Homo sapiens: one gene and its partner. The protein of the gene in region 2 purifies or fractionates together with the protein of the main gene of each other region. This does not show direct contact. Each region holds a gene or a part of one and is shown on either strand. Other genes may lie near its edges.

Region 1 (10,248 bases), on a different chromosome or scaffold from region 2:
TTGAGACAGAGTCTCCCTCTGTCATCCAGGCTGGAATGCAGTGGTGCTCACTGCAACCTCCCGCCTCCAGGGTTCAAGTGATTCTCCTGCCTCAGCCTCCTGAGTAGCTGGGATTACAGGCATAAGCCACCGTGCCTGGCTGGAAATAGGTTATTCTTTTGAGGCATCTGTTCTCAAAGAGAGTAACAGGGAATAGTAGGGAGTAGGTTTTGTTATTGTTTTGGTTTTTATATATTTTTCAGCATAAAGGAGAATGAAAAATGTCTGCAGCCAGTAAAAACAAAAAGGAATCACTAGAGGAGTCAGAACAAGGGAGGCTAACTGGTCAAGGGATAATAAAAAGCACAGCAAGAAAGTTAACCTTAGAAAGAAAGCTCTTTCTTCCCCTGAGAATGGAAGGAAAAGTTTGAGAAAGATATTTTTAAATAATCTTTTAAGGGGGAGGAAGTAACTAAAAAATCTCAAGAGTACCTCCATATTCTCTAGGAAGTATAATGCCAAGATATCTGTTGAGGGGAAAGGGGCAGAACGGGGAACAGTGTTAGGAATACCCCAGTAGGGATGAAACTGGAATGGAAAAGAACCTCGGTCCACAAGCGGATAAATCGTAAGTATATTCAATTGTTTTACCTTCTGTAACTGGCCAAACTCCTGGTCCCTTTAGGTTCCAAGGCAGAATATAAACAATTCATGAAATGTAGTGAAAATATTATGGACATAAACAGAATAGAGACAGTCCTCAAAATCGTAGAACTCCCTGAAAAAGTTTTTGCCTCAGGTCTATAAACCTGTTCCCTATTACTCTTCAATTATTTTTTCACAAGACCCTAAAGTTGTAAGTTTTCTCATTAGTAGCTTGTGATTCCTCTGAAAATGACTGAGATTTATGAACTCTGCAAAATGAAAATCCATAAACAAGCAACCTGTCAAGGCATTTTAGCAGCACCTTTCAGGAATGTGCTTCATAAATATCATTTTACATCATAAAAGACTAAATATATTTTCAACATTTAGAATTATGGAAACAATAGTAAATGTCACCACTCAATTATCTCACCCAATATCGAAATCCCCTCTTAGTAATATTTGGCCACTTATCAATGAAACCTCATTAGTTTACAAAACAGCCTATGGCATTGCTGGGTATCAATAACTGGTGTTCACATAATTCCTGTATTCCTATATTGATTTTTATCTGTCCTGTTCATCCCCTAGATCTGCTACACAGATGGCATAAAATAATGCATGAATGAAATCTACCTTTTAGCGACTCTTTAACTTCTACCAGGGTCCTTAAACTAAGCCTTGAAAATACATTTCCCTTATCTATTGATTGTCTTTCAAACAGGTAAAAGCAATTTTTACATTCTCTTCTCTAGGGTAAACAAATCTAACCATTTTTCTCATCATGATTTTTCTTTTTTTTTAGTGTTTCAAGTCCTCCCTAAATATTAGGAATCAAAACAGATATGATGTGCATAGCACATGGGAGGGGGGTGGTAACTAACATGCAGTAACATGTCCATTGTGTGTCTGCTGCGTTGCAGCATGTCTGCAAGCTAGTTTTCTTATCCTCACAATTTATCACTGAGAAAATGGAGCCAGAGACACGAAACAACCTGACTAATTCACAGCTAGCAAGCAGCATCACAACTAGTCTTACTTTATACCAAGATACTGCCTTCCCTCAATCTAGACACTGCTTTTCTTCTGTTTAAGTGGAATGTTACATCCTAGAACCACTTTTGTCAAGCCAGGAAAACTCAGGTTTTGTAAATGTAATCACACCAAGTAAATTTATTTATTTTTTATTTTTTTTGAGACAATCTCACCTAGTAAATTTATATCTGGCCAGTTCTGGCCTATTATTATATTTCAGCCTTTAAGAAATCTTTGATTTCTGAGTGTCATCTAATTTGCTCATTATCACTACATGGTTTGAGTGCATTTATTAACTTGAGAATCACGCTGCTTATCTATTTAAAGTTGGTATTAAGAAAGTGTTAATCCGAGTAAGGGCAAGACCAGAGTCCTGTAGCATATCTCCAAAGACATCTCCCCAGGCTTACATCAACTCATTAATCAACATTTCGGGTTTGGTAATTTGCATGGATATAAATCCATCTAACCACACCTTATCCAATGCACATTTAACTCTTGTGTCTACACACAGTATTAGAATCTTGTTGGAAGACTATGTCCTAAATAAACTTAAATGAACTTATGTCCAACAATCCCCAATCACCACCAGTCTAGTAAACTGTAACAAAAGGAAATATGATTTGTGTCACCTGGCTTTTTCTTGAGACAGGGTCTTGCTTTGTCGCCCAGGCTGGAGCGCAGTCACCCGATCACGGCTCACTGCAGCCTTGATCTCTCAGACTCAAGTGATCCTCCTGCCTCAGTCTCCCAAGTAGCTACTACAGGCATGCACCTCCACATCTGGCTAATTTTTTGATTTTTTTTTTGTAGTGGTGAGGTCTCACTATGTTGCCCAGGATGGTCTTGAACTCCTGAGCTTGTGTGATCCTCCAGCTTTGGCCTCCCACAGTACTGGTATTATAAGCGTGAGCCACCACCTCTGGCCTCACCTGGCCTTTTCTCACTGAAGCTCTGCTGGCTTCAGGGAATCAGCTCTCCTTTCCCAAGTACTCATAAACTTGTTGGCTCTTCCAACAAGATTCTAAAACAGATTATTAATAGGTTCCTAGTAGCCAAGAGCCATCGAATGGTTCTATGTGAAAACAGACATTTACCAGATTCTAGTCTTCTATCATTAACTGTACTTTTAGGATTTTTCAAAATCTAAGAATAACGATTTTATAAAGTCATCTGCAAATACTCTGGTATACAATTTACCTGAGCTTAAAAATATGATCACTCTGTAATCTCCTCAATTACCTTGAATTTAATTCCTCTAGATTTTTTTGTCCTTATCCAATTTTAAAGAAAACAAGCAGAAAACACTGTCCTCCCTTTCAGACACTCAGCAGAGTCACTGCTTTCAAATATAATGTCCTGAAATGAACTAGCCCATTTTATAGGCCACAGCTATGACCAATTTTTCTTTATGACATTCAATTTTAGAAACAGCATTTAAAATTTAAGAACCTCATTAACAACTCGAATAGTTTTTATTGCTTGTTAGTGCAAACTACATTTTCAAAATGGAACAAATTTAAACAGGATTTGCCCAGAAATCAACTAATATGCTTGAATAATGCATCACAATATAATCGAAATGAGATAAAAGAGGGAAAAAAACCCTAAAAGACACCAGCGGTGGTCACTCTGAATAAGACAATCTTGGATAATTATTATATTCATAGTCAAGATTATTTAACAGGTAAGCATCCTAAGGGCACTTTAATCCAAATGTCTATCAATACTACTACCACTACCATCATCCATCCATTCTTTCATTCAGCAATACAGAGGGCTTATTAAACGTCAGGCAGTGTTCTAGGCGCTGAAAGCTCCTCGCTTTCATTCTAGCAACATCATTCATACAAACCTTTAGCGGGCACCTACAACTGCAAGGCATTGTGCTAGGTATCTGTAAACAGCGATTTAGATCGAGATACACAAACATCACCAAGTTTCTCTTAAAAACACAGAAGACCACCCTTAAGAAATGCTCTTAGAAATAGTTCCTAACCTCAGATGACTTAGCGAAAGCTCCGTTTAACTGGCAGTCTAAATTTAGGGAGCATTACCGAGCCTATCTTGGGCAGACAATCGTTTAGGAGCTGTCACATAACCTCTAGACTTACGCTCCAATTTTCTAAAGAACAATTTCTCTCATAACAAACCAAATCAACCACCAGGAGCGGGTCCGTAAAGACGATGTCTGGGCAAGAACGAAATCTAATCCCGGAAGTGCCTTTTCCTCATCTTAGCCGCACCCTCGTTACGTGGCTCTCCAAAACTCCAAAGTCGGAGTACCCTAGACATGGAACAACCTCCAAAAAGTTTCAGGCCTAGCCAAGGTTGGGACTAATACGCCGCGAAATAATCGGGGAGATATGAGAAGTCTGTGGCTGTGAGACTGTGCGCGGTTAACACCGCTGCCCCTTTTGCCCAACCCCTAGAAAGTTCCCCAACTCTGACTGCCCCCCAGTGCGAGGGCCGCTACCAGTTCTAGGGTGAGTCCGGCCTCCCTGCCCCGCCCCGGCGCCTCAGACCCTCTCTACACGCCCGCCCCACAACCCCGCGTCGCCCGCAAAGTTCAATGTGTACCGGAGGTTAGCGGAGGGAGGCAGAATCCGGAAAGAGAGACTCCGCCAGTGGATAGCGGCGGTTGGCCATAACCTACTCCGACCTCCAGATACGCGGGAGGTGGGCGGCGCTGCCCTCAGTCGGTGGGTCACTCACCCCTCGCTTCAGGCAAGCCCCTCAGCGACGTCTCTCCTTGCCGACTGCGGCCATCTTGTATATGGAATGTCGGGGACCTACGTCATCACGCTGCGTCCTGAGACGCCACCAAGCGACCGGAGGGGCGGAGAGAGTAGGATGCCTGTCAACCAATGGGAAGAAAGCAGAGCTCTCAAAAGAGGAACGAGCCGCCGCTCTCCTCCCCGCCCGCCCCGCGGGTCAGTGGCTGCTGCTTACAGAGGGAGGAGCCAGCCACAGGGCCCATCCCGTCGGTCCCGCCCCTCGGGGCGAAAAGGCATTCTGGAGCAACCGAACCTGCTAACGGAACTTGGGCGCGTAGGCGGGGCCCGGGTCGAGATTCGTCCAATCAAAGCTCTGGCGGGGGCGAACGCAGCCAGTTGCGACATCGTGGTTGGCGGCGGCTGAGCCGGCCGCTCTTGCCCCCGGGAGCTGCCAGCCCACTGGCTGGGGAGGACCCCGAACGGAACGCCGGCTGGGTGGCGGGGCGGGGCCGCGCCCATGCGTCCGAAGCGTGGGCCAATGAACGGCGGCGGCTGCGGCCCGGGGGCGGGGTCCGGGGCGGGAGGAGAAGCGTTGGGCCGCGGTCGCGGGGCCGTCTCAGGCTGCCGTCCCGCCCCTCCCGTCCGGCCGCCGCCGCCGCCACCGCCGCCACCGCCTGGGGGTTGGTTGAGGCGGACGGCGGGGTCCGGGCCGGAGTACGTCGTTCCCGCTGCGCTAGGGGAAGCGGGCAGGTGAGTGCTGGCGGCGGTCTCTGCGCCCGCGCGGCCCGCGGGGGAAACTCGCGCCGCGTCTCCGAGCTCTGCGAGGCCGTCCCTCGCCCTGGCCAGCGCCCCTCGGCCGAAGTCCGGCCCGCGCCCCCGCCAGGGTCCCCGCCGGCCGCTGTGGCCCCGGGGCTTGAAGGGGCAGGTGTGCGCTCGGGGGCCAGGGCGAGGAGGGCCCGGCGGGGTCGGAGGGCGCCGGTCGGCCTCTGCCCGGGCGCCCTGCGGGGCGAGAGGCGCGCGCTCGCCGCTGCCCTGTCCCCTCTGGCGCCCACGCTCCCGGGCCCCGCGCCACCCGGTCTCGAGGTGGTGCCAGGTGCAGGCAGCGCTCTCCCCGAGCTTGCCCCGCTGTCCCCGGCCCTCGCGCCTGCTCTCGGGTGGGGCCCGGGCCCCTCGCGCTAGTCGGCTCGGCTCTGCGCGCGGCCGGGTCGCGCTCCCATTTCCTTCCTTCCTCCCGTCACCCCGCTGCTCGGGGAAGGCTGTGCGGTTTTATGTTCCTCTCTGCGAGTTCTCGGTGCCCACCAGGGTGCCCGGGGACCAGCCCCCGCCTCCTCCCGCGCCGTCCAGTTAGGAAGACGGACGTAGGAAATAGGTCGTCTTTCTTCCCACGCGCCCCTGGCCGTGCTCCACACGCGCAGTGCCCTACTAGGGAGAGGCAATTCGGTGCTTTAGAGTTTGTCATTCCGGCGTTAACTCTTCCTCCTCGTGGCTCCAGCCCGGCGATGCAACTCTTGTCTTTTCCCGGTCTCCACTTGGGAAAAGGAGCTGACAGTGACGCGCGCCCCTGGCTGCGGGGCTCACCCCTGCCCGGCCGGTGTTGGGAGGAGGGCATTTCAGTGTTGCAAAGGCATTCGCGGGTTAGGACCACTCGGACCGTGTTATTTTGCTTTTCTAAATAAATAAGGTGATGTTTCAAAAGCAAAAATACTTTTAAAGTATGCTGACAAATCAATTTTGCTTTTAAGAATCCTCGAAGAGTTACCCCATCTTCGTAGCCTGATTGTGGTGCTGATGAGGCCACTATAAATGCGTTTGTCAGAACTCAGAACCGGACACTGAAAAGTGTGAATTTTATCTTATGTAAAATATACCTCTCCCTCTCCCGTTTTTCTTCTTGAAATGACCTTGCCAGTATTTCAAAACTGAACTAACCAGTAATAATCTCGGAGAAGTGTTTATTATTTTAAGCGAATACATTTAACCCAAGAATATAGCAAAATAAAGCAGTCTTCCTCTCCACTGTTAAAATTTGCCAAGACTTGCTTGAACCTTGCTGTATGTACTGTGTTTATACGGGCTACCATGCGTGAAAGTCCAGCAGTACTGGATTAGTCCCAAGGGCTGCCGTGATTGATACTTTGGTGAAATTCCAACAGTTTACCGAGGAGTTTTTCTTCGGCCTAAGAAAGTAGTTTGCAAAGCCAAGTTCTCAAACAGCTACAGAACCTCTTTATTGGGACCCCAGACAACCTTGGATTTTAGCCTTCTGCTACCCCTTTCCTGTCTGCCCTCCAAGTGATTGTAAGTTAATATCTGAAATGGAACTGTAGTCTGAAGGAGTAAAATGGTTGCTTCTCCAGTGTGCTAACATCTCAGTGCTTTTTTTTCCTGGAATTGGAGTGGTGTTGGATTTGAAGATTAGAACATCTTATGTCTGTATGTACGGTTATAGCGAAAGCTTCTCGTAAGAGCACAGTGACTGTCAGTAAGAAAGTGATGGCTGCTGCGCTGCTCTTCCGTGCCGTGGACATTTAGGCCACATTTTAAATGATAATTAAGCTTTTGCTTTAGAAGCCACTGGATAATGAGAAAAATATGGAGGTGATATTTTTCCTATTTAAAGCTTAACCACTGGACAACTGTTTTGGTTTTGAGAGTTCTGATAAACGGTCACAACAGCCTCCTTGGAACACAGTACTCTCCTGCCTGGAGGAGAATGACAGGATGACGGCGCCGGGGAAGGTATGACCATCAGCGACGGAGGCTTGCTTGGAGTGAATATTTAGTAGACAATCATTGAATTCAATGAAAACCAGGTGCATAGTTTGTGCTGTGTAGAGTTGTAGTAAAAATATGAGCAAAAATCCTACCTCCAAGTCAGGGTTACTCTGAATGCTTTGTGACTAGATGTCAGTGTAGTTTGAGGCGTACCAGTTTTCTTCAATGTTTTAATTACATAGAGTCTTTTTTCTTATCACAAATCCGAAGTAGGGTTTAGAACTGTAACTAGTAATACTGTATCTTTCTTTTGTGTAGTTGGATGAATATCCTTCTCTGAGAGGTTATTTATCTTTAGAGACTGGTTTGCCTGTTCCCTGGCTGCTGTGCCTTGTGCTTCTGTTGAGGGTGGAGAGGAAGAGTTTCAAGTGTGTTTCTTTCCCTTGGACCGAAGTCCTGGGAATGGAGTGGTGACTTTGTTCCCTCAAAGAGAACTCGGAGTCATTTATTGCTATGGCATTAAATGTTTTTAACAGAACGGTGAACTTATCTTTATTCTTATGTTACTTTGGATGTTGCTTGTGGCCAGTTATAATATTTGCTTTCTCAATTACCTACCCTTATTTTTGGGCCCTTTTTTTATCAGTGAAAAATCTTTTGATTAGCCGTGCATCTTTTCTCTCCTGCTATAGTCATAGAAGTGTTTATCTGGCTAACAGTTTGTTTTGGGTCATATTTAACCAGTCGAGAGTATTAGAATAAAGAGTCTTGCTTTTTCAGTTTTCTATAGTTTTCACTTCTGTTGCCTTTACAATGGTTTTCTGTCATTGGATTTCCTTTTATCATCTCATTTTTCTATTCATAAATTGGAGAGGTTAACTAATTTGATATGCAAATAGAATTAATTTACATAATATTTACTCTCAAGGTAAAAAATTTCTATCAAAATATTAATATATATTAATATATTTTCCTATTACAAAGAAGTTGAGACTTGGCTTTTTTTTTTTTTTTGAGATGGAGTTTCGCTCTTGTTGCCGAGGCTGGAGTGCAATGTCGTGATCTCGGCTCACCGCAACCTCTGCTTCCTGGGTTCATTCTCTTGCCTCAGCCTCTGAGCAGCTGGGATTACAGGCATGCGCCACCACGCCTGGCTAATTTTGTATTTTTAATAGAGAAAGGGTTTCTCCATGTTGGTCAGGCTGGTCTGGAACTCCCGACCTGAGATGATCCGCCCACCTCAGCCTCCCAAAGTGCTGGGATTACAGGCGTGAGCCACCGCACTGGGCTGAGACTTGGCTTTTTAAAAAGTTACTTAATAGTCTTTTGAAAAAAAAATTAGCATCTGCAAGATTAAGAAGTCTTGCTTTTTAACTCAAGCCAGAGATTAGCTGTGTTGACCCCGTTTCCACTTGGGAGTCTCCTCTAAGTTTTGGATATAAACAGACTGTAAAAACGAGATAAAAACACAGATATTGAACAGTTTCGACTGAGATAAATTTGAATGGAAGAAAACTGATTCCAAATGATTATAAAATTCAAATACCAAAGTTAAGACTTTGCAATTTTTTTTTTCTTCTATCAAGTACTTTCCAAGTAGAAGTGAACTAGTGAGTCCAAACAGTCTTGGTTGACAATGAAAGACACATCTATCTTTGAAGTTAAGATTTTGAAAGGGATCTACTGATTACTAAGCCAAAGTGAATCATTAGCCTTTTGCAAGCCTAACCTCAGTACTGGGATGGGGAAGTAGGGGAGGGCAGAGGGACAGAGCAGGAAGAAATGTTTCCACTGTTTTTTAGAAGGACAAAAAAAATTGTCTAGAGAATGTAGATAATCAAGTGTCTACACGGAACTTTTTATTTTTAGTTTTTAATTGACAAAAATATATGATACATAGAACTCTTAATAAAATATACACTTAGGTTTATTACTGTCTATGATCCTGAGTTTCACGTTCCATTTTTTAAGAATACAATTCATCAGGACATAACAGGTCTAAGAAAGTCTTCCGACTAAATGGTTTACAATGTTCAGTCTCAGAAAATAGACATGCCTTTTCAATATCAGCAGTTTTCTATTACACATATTTGAGAGGAAGTAAAGATTAGTGTTGACAAATACTTATAAAAGCTGCTTTTACCATAAAATATTTACTAGTGTCTAATAACATTTTTGATTTGTTGTTTGTAAAAATTTAGCTTCGCTGCATGTCATGGTCACCTCATGGTTCTGCGTTTTTCCCTGCAACAAAAATGTGGCATTGCAGATATGGTGGACTGGATGGAAGCTCTTTTGGAAGTTTTGCCCATGTCCCAAATTTAACCTGCAGCTCCTCCTATGTATTTGGACAAAGCCAGCAAAATAACTATACTTTTAAAAGGCCAAAAAATAAAACCTTTACATGCGTATGTTTTATCAGTGCAAGGGAATAGTATTTTGAATATTAGCGATAACAGTGAACCTTTGGAGCTCTCATAAATGGGTTGGTTTTGAGCCGAACTCATGAAATATTATTATCAGTAAGATTTGTCATTGAGGTGTGCTGGTGAGGCTCTGACACAAACTGAGTCTATCATTTTGCATAAATTAATCAGTCTCCGTAAGCGTCAGCTTTCTCATCTGTGAAGGGGACTTGTTAATACCTATCTTATATTGTGTAAAATGCTTACCTCAATTCCTGATCATATAATAAATGCCCAAATGACATGATTGTGATGGGGACGATCATATTGGAGAACTTCCATAGGACACAGGACATGGCAAGGATGATCCTGAAATAACATGACAGCATGAATAGTTGCATTTAGGTTCAAAAACTCAGTTGTTGAATATAGCACATTTATCTTGCTGAAGATCACGAAAGGCTTTAGTTGATTACTGTCTTGTCCTAAAGGCTATGGGACCATGTTGCATCATCTTTGTGTTTGAGATTAGATTCTCAGGAAATGTGCAGGAATGAGGGAATGAATTCACTGGGCTCATAGAAAAGCTAGGGCAGTCTTAGGAATATTAGTCAAATTTCTTTGAGTTCCAGGAAGGTGGGTAGTCCATCTCAGAGCACATCTGAAGGGTTTTGTTGACTTAAAAAAAAAACAGTTCATTGAAGTATAATATGCTTAAGTGGTTTTGCTCACTTTTGAGAAATATGTAGTAA
Region 2 (10,818 bases):
CCAGCTACTCTCAGGAGGCTGAGGCAGGAGAATAGCTTGAACCCGAGAGGCAGAGGTTGCAGTGAACCGAGATCGCTCCACTGCACTCCAGCCTGGGCAACAAAACAAGACTCTGTCTCAAAAAAAAACAAAAAACAAAGCAGCTTTACAAATGCTACACTTAAGACTTAGGCATTTTACTGTATATAAATTTTACTCCTCACCCCTCCAAAAAAAAAAAAAGGGTAATCCAGCTAATGGTAAACATGTTAAAGTGTTTAGAATGAAGTATACTGATGTCTACAACTTACTTTGAAATAAATGAAAATAAAAGATAGATTAATGGACAGGTAGATAGATTACAAAATACATGGCTTTTTTTTTTTTTTTTTTAAGACTGAGTCTTACTCTGTCTCTGTCACCTAGGCTGGAGTGCAATGGCACGATCTCAGCTCACTGCAACCTCTGCCTCCCGGGCTCAACTGATTCTCCTGCCTCAGCCTTCCGAGTAGCTGGGACTACAGGCGCACGCCACCACACCCAACTAATTTTTTATATTTTTATAGAGACAGCATTTCACCACATTGGCCACGCTGGTCTCAAACTCCCTACCTCGTGATCCGCCCACCTCGGCCTCCCAAAGTGCTGAGATTACAGGTGTGAGCCACTCCTGGCCCAATTTTTTTTTTTTTTGAGACAGGGTCTCACTCTGTTGCTCAGGCTGGAGTGCAGTGGTGTGATCACAGCTCACTGCAGCCTTGACTTCCTAGGCTCAAGCAATCCTCCCACCTCAGCCTCCCAGGCAGTGGGGACTACAGATGTGCACCACCGCGACCAGCTAATTTTTTTTTTTTTCCTGTAGAGAACGGGGCCTCACTATGTTGCCCAGCCTGGATACAGCAAATATTTATTGTAGAATCTTGCTGTTACATATATGGGTGTTCACTACAACCTTTCTGTGCTGGAAAATTTTTTATAATAAAATGGAGGAGGAAACATTAAGAACTCCAGCCCTTGACAGCTAGGAACACTCTGCAGCTTGATGTACTCACACCATTTATGAATTGTAACTTTAAGTCAGCAAAAATTACACTGAAATACAAAAGCCATGCATGAGCCAGGCGTGGTGGCTCATGCCTGTAATCCCAGCACTTTGGGAGGCAGGAGGATTGCTTGAGCTCAGGAGTTCAAGACCATCCTGGGCAACAGGGCAAAACCCAGTCTCTACAAAAAAAAAAAAGAAAAAGAAAAAAAAAATTAGCCAGGCATGGTGGCATGAACCTGTAATCCCAGCTACTCAGGAGGCTGAGGTGGACGGATTGCTTGAGCCTGGGAAGTCAAGGCTGCAGTGAGCCAAGATGATGCCACTGCACTCCAGCCTAGGCAACAGGGCAAGATCTTGTCTTTCAAAAAAAAAAAAAGTCATGCATGAATTTTTTTCAAATTAGCACAATTTCTCTACCAGTGTTCAACATCCTCACTCATAATTTACTGAGTGATATTATGTACAAGGCACTGTGCTATGCACTTCAAATTGACTAATTTAATCATCACAACCCTTAAAAGTAGGTATTTATTATTCCCATTTTACACCTGAAGCAACTCAGGCAAGGAGAAATTAACTCATTTGCTAAAGGTCACAAAGCAACATTAGGATTCCACAAAGGTCTAACTAAAGCCCACATTCTGTTTTTGTGAACAGAAGTGAGGCCACAAAGGAGATACATCTCATTACCTAGGAACAAGAACACAGTTTTCCAAATAATTCACTCTAACAACAAAATTTCAAACTAGCATGCCTTTCTCGCAAAAATATAAAGAAGGCATTATTACTATGTGTTTTAGAGAAAGATTTTGAAAATTGTCAGCGGTCACAAGGTAGGTCAGTGATGATGCTGTAAAGAAAACCAAATTGTCCTTGGAACCAATTTCTGCTAGGTTATACCATTAAAAGGGTAACAGACTAATCAGCTGAATTTCCACTAAAACATCAGTTAAAAGACAGGAATCTTTTGTAAATAATTAAAACAGTGCCAAGTAGGAAATGAATAAATGTACAGGTTTGGGGATTCAGTGGACAACACAAATAGGATAAACTAGGCAAGTAACTTCCATACCAATTTCTTAAGTCTTCAACCAGGTCCCATAGAGTCTAAAGCACAAATACCAATGTGATTTTTAAAAATATAAAACTAAGCAACAGAAATAGCTAGACATGCTCTGGGAACTAGTATCAACTCCATCCACTCACTAAGCAGAAGCCTTTGACGTTTCTCACTCAGAAGCTTACAACTGAAGACCCCACCACTGGAAGTACCTACCTTTGGCGGTTTGAGGCCTATGTACTCTTCACTTCTCGAATTCTGGGTTAAGGGGAGACAGATTCACACACTGGAATGACTAGCCAACAGCAAAGTGTTCTAGTCAATGATGAACACTGCGGGCTTCCAGACAATGTTAACACGCTGAATGCCAATTCCTCGCAACCCACCCTAAATGAGGAAGGACTGTTAGACAAATAGCTCACCTGGGGAGTGGACTCCGACTCAGAGACCGCTTGCTCAGGAAAGGGCTGCTGGACCGCCTTCGACCATAGGGACTGGGCGATCGCCCGCTGTAAGAGCCACTTCTTTCGTAGCTGGACGACCGTCTCCTGCTATAGGGACTGACAGATCTCTGTCGCCTACTGTAGGGGCTCGGTGACCGGGTGCTGGACTGGTAGGCCGAAGGCTCCTTGTAAGGGGGACTGACCGACTGCCTTCTCGAGGTACTTCCAGGACTTTTCTTGTAGGAGTCATAATTGCTCGAGGTATGAGATCGTGAGGGACTAAGGTCATAATCTTGGCCATAAGAAGCTCCCGAGGGGCTATCATCTTGTTTGGAGCTGTCAGACCACTTCCTGTGGGGGCTCCTGGATCTCCGTTTTGGGCTGTCCACTGTTTTGTAACTTTTGGGTGTTTCCCTTTTTCGATGACTTTTACTCCGGTCTTTGTGCCCAGACTTCAGCTCCCGTTCTTTCCTGGTCTTCTCCTTGTGGAGCTTGGATGACCTGGATTCCTTGCTGCTGCTTTTGGCTACCTGCGCCTTCCCATAGTCATCAGTCTCCTCATTCGAACGCTTTGAACTTCCCGATATCCGGTCCTTCATCGATCCCGACTTGCTGGAGACTTCTTGGCTTTTTTCTTTTTCGGTCTGTTTAGCTTTTAGTAAGTCCCGGGAACGCCTGTGCTGGTGGTGACGATGTTTGTGCAGGCGGTCGCTCCGATCTGATCCACGACGTTCGTCGTTCTCCCTTCGGTCTAGTTTGAAGGCCATGTCATCGGAGAAGGTGTCGGAATCAGAGCTGATATCATCATACTCCACCAAAGGTTTGATAACTGTGCCCAGGGATGCTGCTTCGGGGGTCACCAACCCCATGTCTTTGGAGTGTTTGGACTTATGCCGCTTGTGCTTCGATACCAAGCGGTGACGCTCTCTGCTGTTAGAGCTGCCGCCTCCCGATGACGGCTGCAAAGTTCCAGAAGCTCCTCCACTCCCGTCCTTCTTGCCCCCATGTCTCTCTGAATTGGGCATTCCCTTTCCCCTGACCTGAAGAAGGGAAAAAAGTTCCCCAGCACTCCAAAAAGCAACCCCCACCCACCCCCCCAACCCCAACTCCACGCCCACCAAAGCGCCCCGGGAAGGGGGTGGGGAGGGCAGGGACGGTAGCCCAGGCTCCTCCTCCCTCCCGACGCCTCAGCACCCTTCTACATGAGGTGGGGGGTGAAGGAGCGAGGGAAGAAATGAGAGTTCCTCGGCAGTGGAGTTGCGAGACAACGGGGAGCTGCTCAAGTCTGTTTCCTCTTCTCCCTCCGCCGAGCCAGTCCTCAGGCCCGGGCGCCGGGGAGGTCCAGGAAGTGAGAAGCCGACGGCCCGGGGCTGTGGAGCCGACTCCAGCTCTGGGGCCCTGCGAGGACTACGCGGGCCCTTCCCCTACCCGGTAGCCCGGTTCAGGACGGCTTCCTGTCGCCGGGGTGCCGCGGCCTAGGTGCCTCACGCCCCCTTTGTCCCTCGCTCCTGAGGTAGCCCCCTTTCTTGCCTCCGTTTCACCTCCACACCACACACACTCTCTCCCTCACACAGACCCAGTCACACACTAGATTAAACCGAAACGGCACTTGGGGAAGGGGGGAGGGGCAATCCCAGAAATCGTCGCGAGAGTCCAGTAGCCTCTCGCGATGTTTCGTGCTTCGCTTTCACCTCATTCCCCTGCTTATCAAACAACGCGAGATCAGGTCCCAAACTAGAAACGCGTTTCACCTGAGTCTCGCGATGAGCTCCCGGAGCTCCCCGTTTGAGCAAAGCTTTATTGAAACGGAACAAACCGAGTTTTTTTTTTTTAACCAAAACTTTATCGGTAACTGATTAAACAAACACTCCCAGGCTCCGTGACAAAATAATTTCAACATCCTTTTTAACAAATCTTTTAACTACCAGGATGACTTTTTTTTGTTTGTTTTTTGTTTTCCTTTGAGACGGAGTCTCGCTCTGTAGCCCATCCTGGAGTGTTAGTGGCGCGATCTCGGCTCACTGCAACCTCCACCTCCTGGGTTCAAGCGATTCTCCTGCCTCAGCCTCCCGAGTAGCTGGGATTACAGGCGCCCGCCACCACGCCCGGCTAACTTTTTTGTTTTTAGTAGAGACAGGGTTTCACCATGTTGGCCAGGCTGGTCTCGACCTCCTGACCTCAAGTGATCCTCCCGCCTCGGCCTCCCAAAGTGCTAGGATTACAGGCGTGAACCGCCGCGCCGGGCCATTTTTTTGTTTGTTTGAGACAAGTTCTCTCTCTTTTGCCCAGACTGGAGTGCAGTGGCACGATCTCGGCTCACTGCAGCCTCCACCTCCTGGGCTCAAGCAATCCTCCCACCTCATCCTGCCGAGTACTTGGAACTATAGAGTCGCGCCACCACGCCGTGCTAATTTGTTTCTATTATTCGTAGTGATGGGGTTTCGCCATGTTGCCCAGGCTAGTCTCGAACTCCTAGACTCAAGCAATCCGCGATCCTTGGTCTTGAACTCCTAGAATGAAGCAATCTGCCCGTCTGGTCCTCCCAAAGTGGCGGGATTACAGGCTTGAGCCACCGCGCCCGGTTGAGATTATTTTTTACAGAGCAAAAGACAAATGTCGGGACATTTCAACCCAAGTCCCTGAGTGTTTTAACAGTGCTTCCCACATATAGGGTGTGTGCTACCTGCCAAGAATTTTACATACATTATCTCTAATTTTCACAATTATCCTGCAAAACACGAGATTTTCATCCCTGTTTTATAGAAAAGGAATCCCAGCCTCAGGGAAGTTGAATAATTTGGTCCAACAAGTGCCACAGTCAACATTCAAATTCATGTCTTTCTGAGACTAAAACACAAGCTCTTCCATCCTATGGTGTTGTCTCCTTACCAATCTTTGCTTCAAATCTCAGAACCTAAAAGCTCATCCCATCTTGAGATCCTCCCATGGCCGTTATTGGATAATTTAGCCTTTCATCCTCATACAAAAGATTATAATATGAACAAGAAAAGCATAGTATTAATTAACAAGAAAATAACACTATCTTACACTGGCCCCTCATTTATTACTTTTTAAAAAACTTTCGCCTACCTTAAGTCATTCCATCTTCACAACAGTCCTCTGAAATAGGTTGTATAAGTGAGAAAACTAAGGCATGGAGAAATGAAGGGGCTTGTCCAAAACGGAGAAGTTCAGCTGGTAAATTCAGGACCAGAAAACATTCTGAATTAAGGTAGTCTCAATTCTCAAAAATCACTCTCTGTAAATGTTCTTGTTCCTTTTGCTCACAGGGCGATCCAAAACATTTTTTTTTTTTAACCTAATTTTGTGTGTGTGTGTGAAGGGTCTCGCTCTGTCGCCCAGGCTGGAGTGCAGTGGCACAATCATAACTCACTGTAGCCTTCCCCTCATGGGCTCAGGTGATCCTCCCATCTCAGCCTCCTGAGTAGCTGAGACTACAGCCACAGGCCACCAGCCCAGCTAATTTTTATTTTTATTTTTTTGTAGAGATGGAGGGCTGGCTATGTTGCCGAGTCTGACCTCAGATGCCTGGGCTCAAGCATTCCATCCACTTTGGCCCCCAAAGTGTTAGGATTACAGGCGTGAGCCACCACGCCCGCCGTCTCTAAATGATTGAGTCCATAAATATTGGTTCTAAAATAAAAAGATCAGGCCAGGCACAGTGGCTCACTCCTGTAATCCCAGCACTTTGGGAGGCCAAGGTGGGCAGATCACAAGGTCAAGAGATGGAGACGATCCTGGCCAACATGGGGAAACCCCGTCTCTACTAAAAACACAAAAATTAGCTGGGCTTGGTGGCACACACCTGCAGTCCCAGCTACTCGTGAGGCTGAGGCAGAGGTTGAACCCTGGAGGCAGAGGTTGCAGCGAGCCGAGATCGCGCCACTGCACTCCAGCCTGGCAACAGAGCAAGACTCCGTCTCAAAATAAATAAGTAAATAATAAAAAAATTTAAAAAATAAAAAGACCAAGTTTTCCACGACAACTTTTTGATCTTCTATGGAAGTAAAATTAATGCTATCAAGAAAAAAGAAGTGGCTGGGAGCAGTGGCTCATGCCTGTAATCCCAGCACTTTGGGAGGCCAAGAGGGGAGGATCATTTGAGGTCAGGAGTAAGACCAGCCTGGCCAATGCAGTGAAACCCTGTTTCTACTAAAAATACAAAAATAGGCCGGGCGCAGTGGCTCACTCCTGTAACCCCAGCACTTTGGGAGCCGAGGCGGGCAGATCAGGAGGTCAGGAGATCGAGACCATCCTGGCTAACACGGTGAAACCCCGTCTCTACTAAAAATACAAAAAAATTAGCTGGGCGTGGTGGCGGGTGCCTGTAGTCGCAGCTACTCAGGAGGCTGAAGCAGGAGAATGGTGTGAACCCGGGAGGCAGAGATTGCAGTGAGGGGAGATCACGCTACTGGGAGGCAGAGATTGCAGTGAGGGGAGATCACGCTACTGCACTCCAGCCTGGGCAACAGAGCAAGACTCTGCCTCAAAAAAAAAAAAAATTAGAGGCCAAGCACTGTGGCTCATGCCTGTAATCCCAGCACTTTGGGAGGCCGAAGTGGGAGGACCACTTGAGGTCAGCAGTTCAAGACCAGCCTGGCCAACACAGTGAAATCCTATCTCTACTAAAAATACAAAAATTAGTCAGGCGTGGTGGTGATCGCCTGTAATCACAGATATTCAGGAGGTTGAGACAGGAGAATCGCTTGAACCCAGAACGCAGAAGTTGCAGTGAGCCAAGATCGTGCCACTGCGCTCCAGCCTGGGTGACAGAGCAAGACTCTGTTTCAAAAACAAACAAACAAACAACAAAAAAATATATATATATTTATATATACACACACACAAAAATTAGCCAGGCATGGTGGCATATGCCTGTAATTCCAGCTACTCAGGAGGCTGAGGCATGAGAATCACTAGAACCTGGGAGGCAGAGGTTGCAGTGAGCTAAGATTGCACCACTGCATTCCAACCTGGGCAACAGAGTGAGAATCCATCTAAAAAAAAAAAAAAGTGGCTAACAAAAAGAAAAAAGGGCTGAGTGTGGTGGCTGACATCTGTAAAACCAACAATTTGGAAGGCCAACATGGAAGGAATTCGTGAGCCCAGAAATTGGAGACCAGCCTGGGCAACATGTTGAGACATCTGTCTCTACAAAAAAATACAAGAAATGACAGGCCGAGCAAGGTGGCTCATGCCTGTAATCCCAGCAATTTGGGAGGCCGAGGCAGGCAAATTGCCTGAGTTCAGGAGTTTGAGACCAGCCTGGGCAACACGGTAAAACCCCATCTCTACTAAAATACAAAAGAAATTAGCCGCCGGGCTTGGTGGCTCACGCCTGTAATCCCAGCACTTTGGGAGGCTGAGGCGGGCGGATCACCTGAGGTCGGGAGTTCGAGACCAGCCCGACCAACATGGAGAAACCCCGTCTCTATTAAAAATACTAAAAAATTAGCTGGGCATGGTGGCCCATGCTTGTAATCCCAGCTACTCGGGAGGCTGAGGCAGGAGAATCGCTTGAACGCAGGAGGCGGAGGTTGCAGTGAGCCGAGATTGGGCCATCGCACTCCAGCCTGTGCAACAAAAGAGAAACTCTGTCTCAAAAAAAAAAAAAAAAATTAGCCAGGCGTAGTGGTGTGGGCCTGTATTCTCAGCTATTCGGGAGGCTGAGGCAGGAGAATTGCTTGAACCCAGGAGGCAGAGCTTGCAGTGAGCCAAGATCACGCCACTGCACTCCAGCCTGGGCGACAGAGCGAGACTCCGTCCCTACCAAAAACAAACAAACAAAAACAAGAAATTAACCAGGCATGGTGTTGCTTGCCTATAGTCCCAGCTACTATGAGGCTGAGATGGGAGGATCACTTGAGCCCAGGAGGTCAAGGCTGCAATGAGCCATGATCATGCCACTGCACTCCAGCCTGGGTAACAGAACAAGAACCTGCCTCAAAAAAGAAAAGAAAAAAGAAAAACACGGGCCAGGCATGGAGGCTCACGCCTGTAATCCCAGTACTTTGGGAGGCCGAGGCAAGCAGATCACCTGAGGTCAGGAGTTCAAGACCAGCCTGACCAACAAGAAGAAACCCCGTCTCTACTAAAAATACAAAAATTAGCCCAGCGTGGTGGCACATGCCTGTAATCTCAGCTACTAGGGAGGCTGAGGCAGGAGAATTGCTTGAACCCGGGAGGTGGAGGTTGCGGTGAGATGAGATGGTGCCATTGCACTCAGCCTGGGCAACAAGAGTGAAACTGTCTCCAAAAAAAAAAAAAAAAAAGAAAAGAAAAGAAAAACACAAGTACTGGAACTCAGTTGTGAACACTCCTTATTCACCGCTATAGGAGGATAGGACACCCTGGATATATTTTCTTGAGACAAGGTCTTGCTGTGCTGCCCAGGCTGGAGTACAGTGTTGCCAGGACAACCTGGATTTATTTTCTTGAGACAAGGTCTTGCTCTGTTGCCCAGGCTGGAGTACAGTGGTATGACCATGACACACTGCAGTCTTTTTTTTTTTTTTTTTGAGATGAAGTCTCGCTCTTGTCCCCCAGGCTGGAGTGCAATGGCACGATCTCGGCTCAGTGCAAGCTCCACCTCCTGGGTTCAAGTGATTCTCCTGCCTCAGCCTCCTGAGTAGCTGGGATTACAGGCGCCTGCCACCATGCCCGGCTCATTTTTGTATTTTTAGTAGAGATGGGGTTTCGCCATGTGGCTAGGCTGGTCTCGAACTCCTGACCTCAGGTGATCCACCCACCTTGGCCTCCCAAAGGGCTGGGATTACAGGTGTGAACCACTGTGTCCGGCTGACACACTGCCATCTTCACTTCCTGAGCTCAAGCAATCCTCCAGCCTCAGCCTCTCCTGGCTGGGATTACAGGTGTAAGCCACAGAGCCTGGCTAATTTTTTTTTTATTTTTTGTAAAGACGGGGTCTTGCTATGTTGCCCAGGCTGCTCTTGAAGTCCTCGGCTCAAGGGATCCTCCCACCTGGACTCCCAAGATGCTCGGAATACAGGCATGGGCCACTGTGTCTGGCCTTGAATGTTTTACATGATGACAGATGGCATGAGACTTCCTGGGCTGATTAAATGTAGTGACCAGTCAGCCATAGTAAGTGTTGGCATGGGTTTGTTGTCATGAGTTCAATAAAATTCACCCTGATTTTTCTGTCTTTTAAATGAGATCAGGTTTTTATTTTTAATTTCTTTTTTTGAGATGGAGTCTTGCTCCGTTGCCAGGCTGGAGTGCGGTGGCACTATCTTGGCTCACTGCAACCTCTGCCTCTCTGATTCAAGCGATCCTCCTGCCTCAGCCTTCTTAGTAGCTGGGATTACAGGCACACGCCACCATGCCTGGCTAATTTTTGTATGTTTAGTAGAGACGGGGTTTCACCATGTTGATCAGGCTGGTCTTGAACTCCTGACCTCATGATCCACCCGCCTTGGCCTCCCAAAGGGCTGGGATTACAGGTGTGAGCCACCATGCCTGGCCTTTTTTTTGGGATGGAGTCTCCCTCTGTTGCCTAGGCTGGAGTGCAATGGCTTCATCTCGGCTCACTGCAACCTCCGCCTCCCAGGTTCAAGCAATTCTCTGCCTCAGCCTTCTCAGTAGCTGGGATTACAGGCGCCTGCCACCATGTTCAGATGATTTTTTTTTAATTTTTAATAGAGACGTGGTTTCACCATCTTGGCCAGGCTGGTCTTGAACTCCTGACCTTGTGATCACCCCCCGCCTTGGCCTCACAAAGTGCTGGGATTACAGGTGCAAGCCACTGTGCCTGGCTGAGATCAAGTTTTTAATTCACGATGTACCCACAGTAGAATGGAAAAGTGAAGACGACAGAAGGCATCGGTGATGTGTCAAAATCTGGAAGAATTAAATTGATTATCCAGATTAAACACCAGCAGAAACTTTTTTTCTTTTTTTGAGACGGAGTCTCACTCTGTCACCTAGGTTGGAGTGCAGTGGTGCGATCTCGTCTCGCTGCAAGCTTCGCCTCGATCTCGGCTCACTGCAAGCTCCGCCTCCCGGATTCACACCATTCTCCTATCTCAGCCTCCCAAATGGCTGGGATTACGGGTGCCTGCCACCATGCCCGGCTAATTTTTTGTATTTGTAGTAGAGACCGGGTTTCACTGTGTTGGCCAGGATGGTCTTGATCTCCTGACCTCGTGATCTGCTCGCCCCGGCCTCCCAAAGTGTTTGTATTACAGGCGTGAGCCACTGCACCTGGCTGAACCTTTCAAAATTATCTGTTACTGCCTCTTGAAGCCAAT

The links.
Region 1: the proteins of CDK12 (region 2) and CCNK purify together in Homo sapiens (affinity purification with mass spectrometry; 6 studies listed by BioGRID and IntAct, with this or other methods). This does not show direct contact.

What each region holds. Positions count from the first base shown.
Region 1 is NC_000014.9:99,475,606-99,485,853, reverse strand, and holds the start of CCNK (cyclin-K), read right to left. Parts: upstream 4,446-10,248; 5' UTR 4,375-4,445; exon of another isoform or gene 4,240-4,374; intron 1-4,239. UniProt on the Homo sapiens protein: Regulatory subunit of cyclin-dependent kinases that mediates activation of target kinases.
Region 2 is NC_000017.11:39,454,806-39,465,623, reverse strand, and holds the start of CDK12 (cyclin-dependent kinase 12), read right to left. Parts: upstream 4,139-10,818; 5' UTR 3,553-4,138; coding exon 2,507-3,552; intron 1-2,506. UniProt on the Homo sapiens protein: Cyclin-dependent kinase that phosphorylates the C-terminal domain (CTD) of the large subunit of RNA polymerase II (POLR2A), thereby acting as a key regulator of transcription elongation.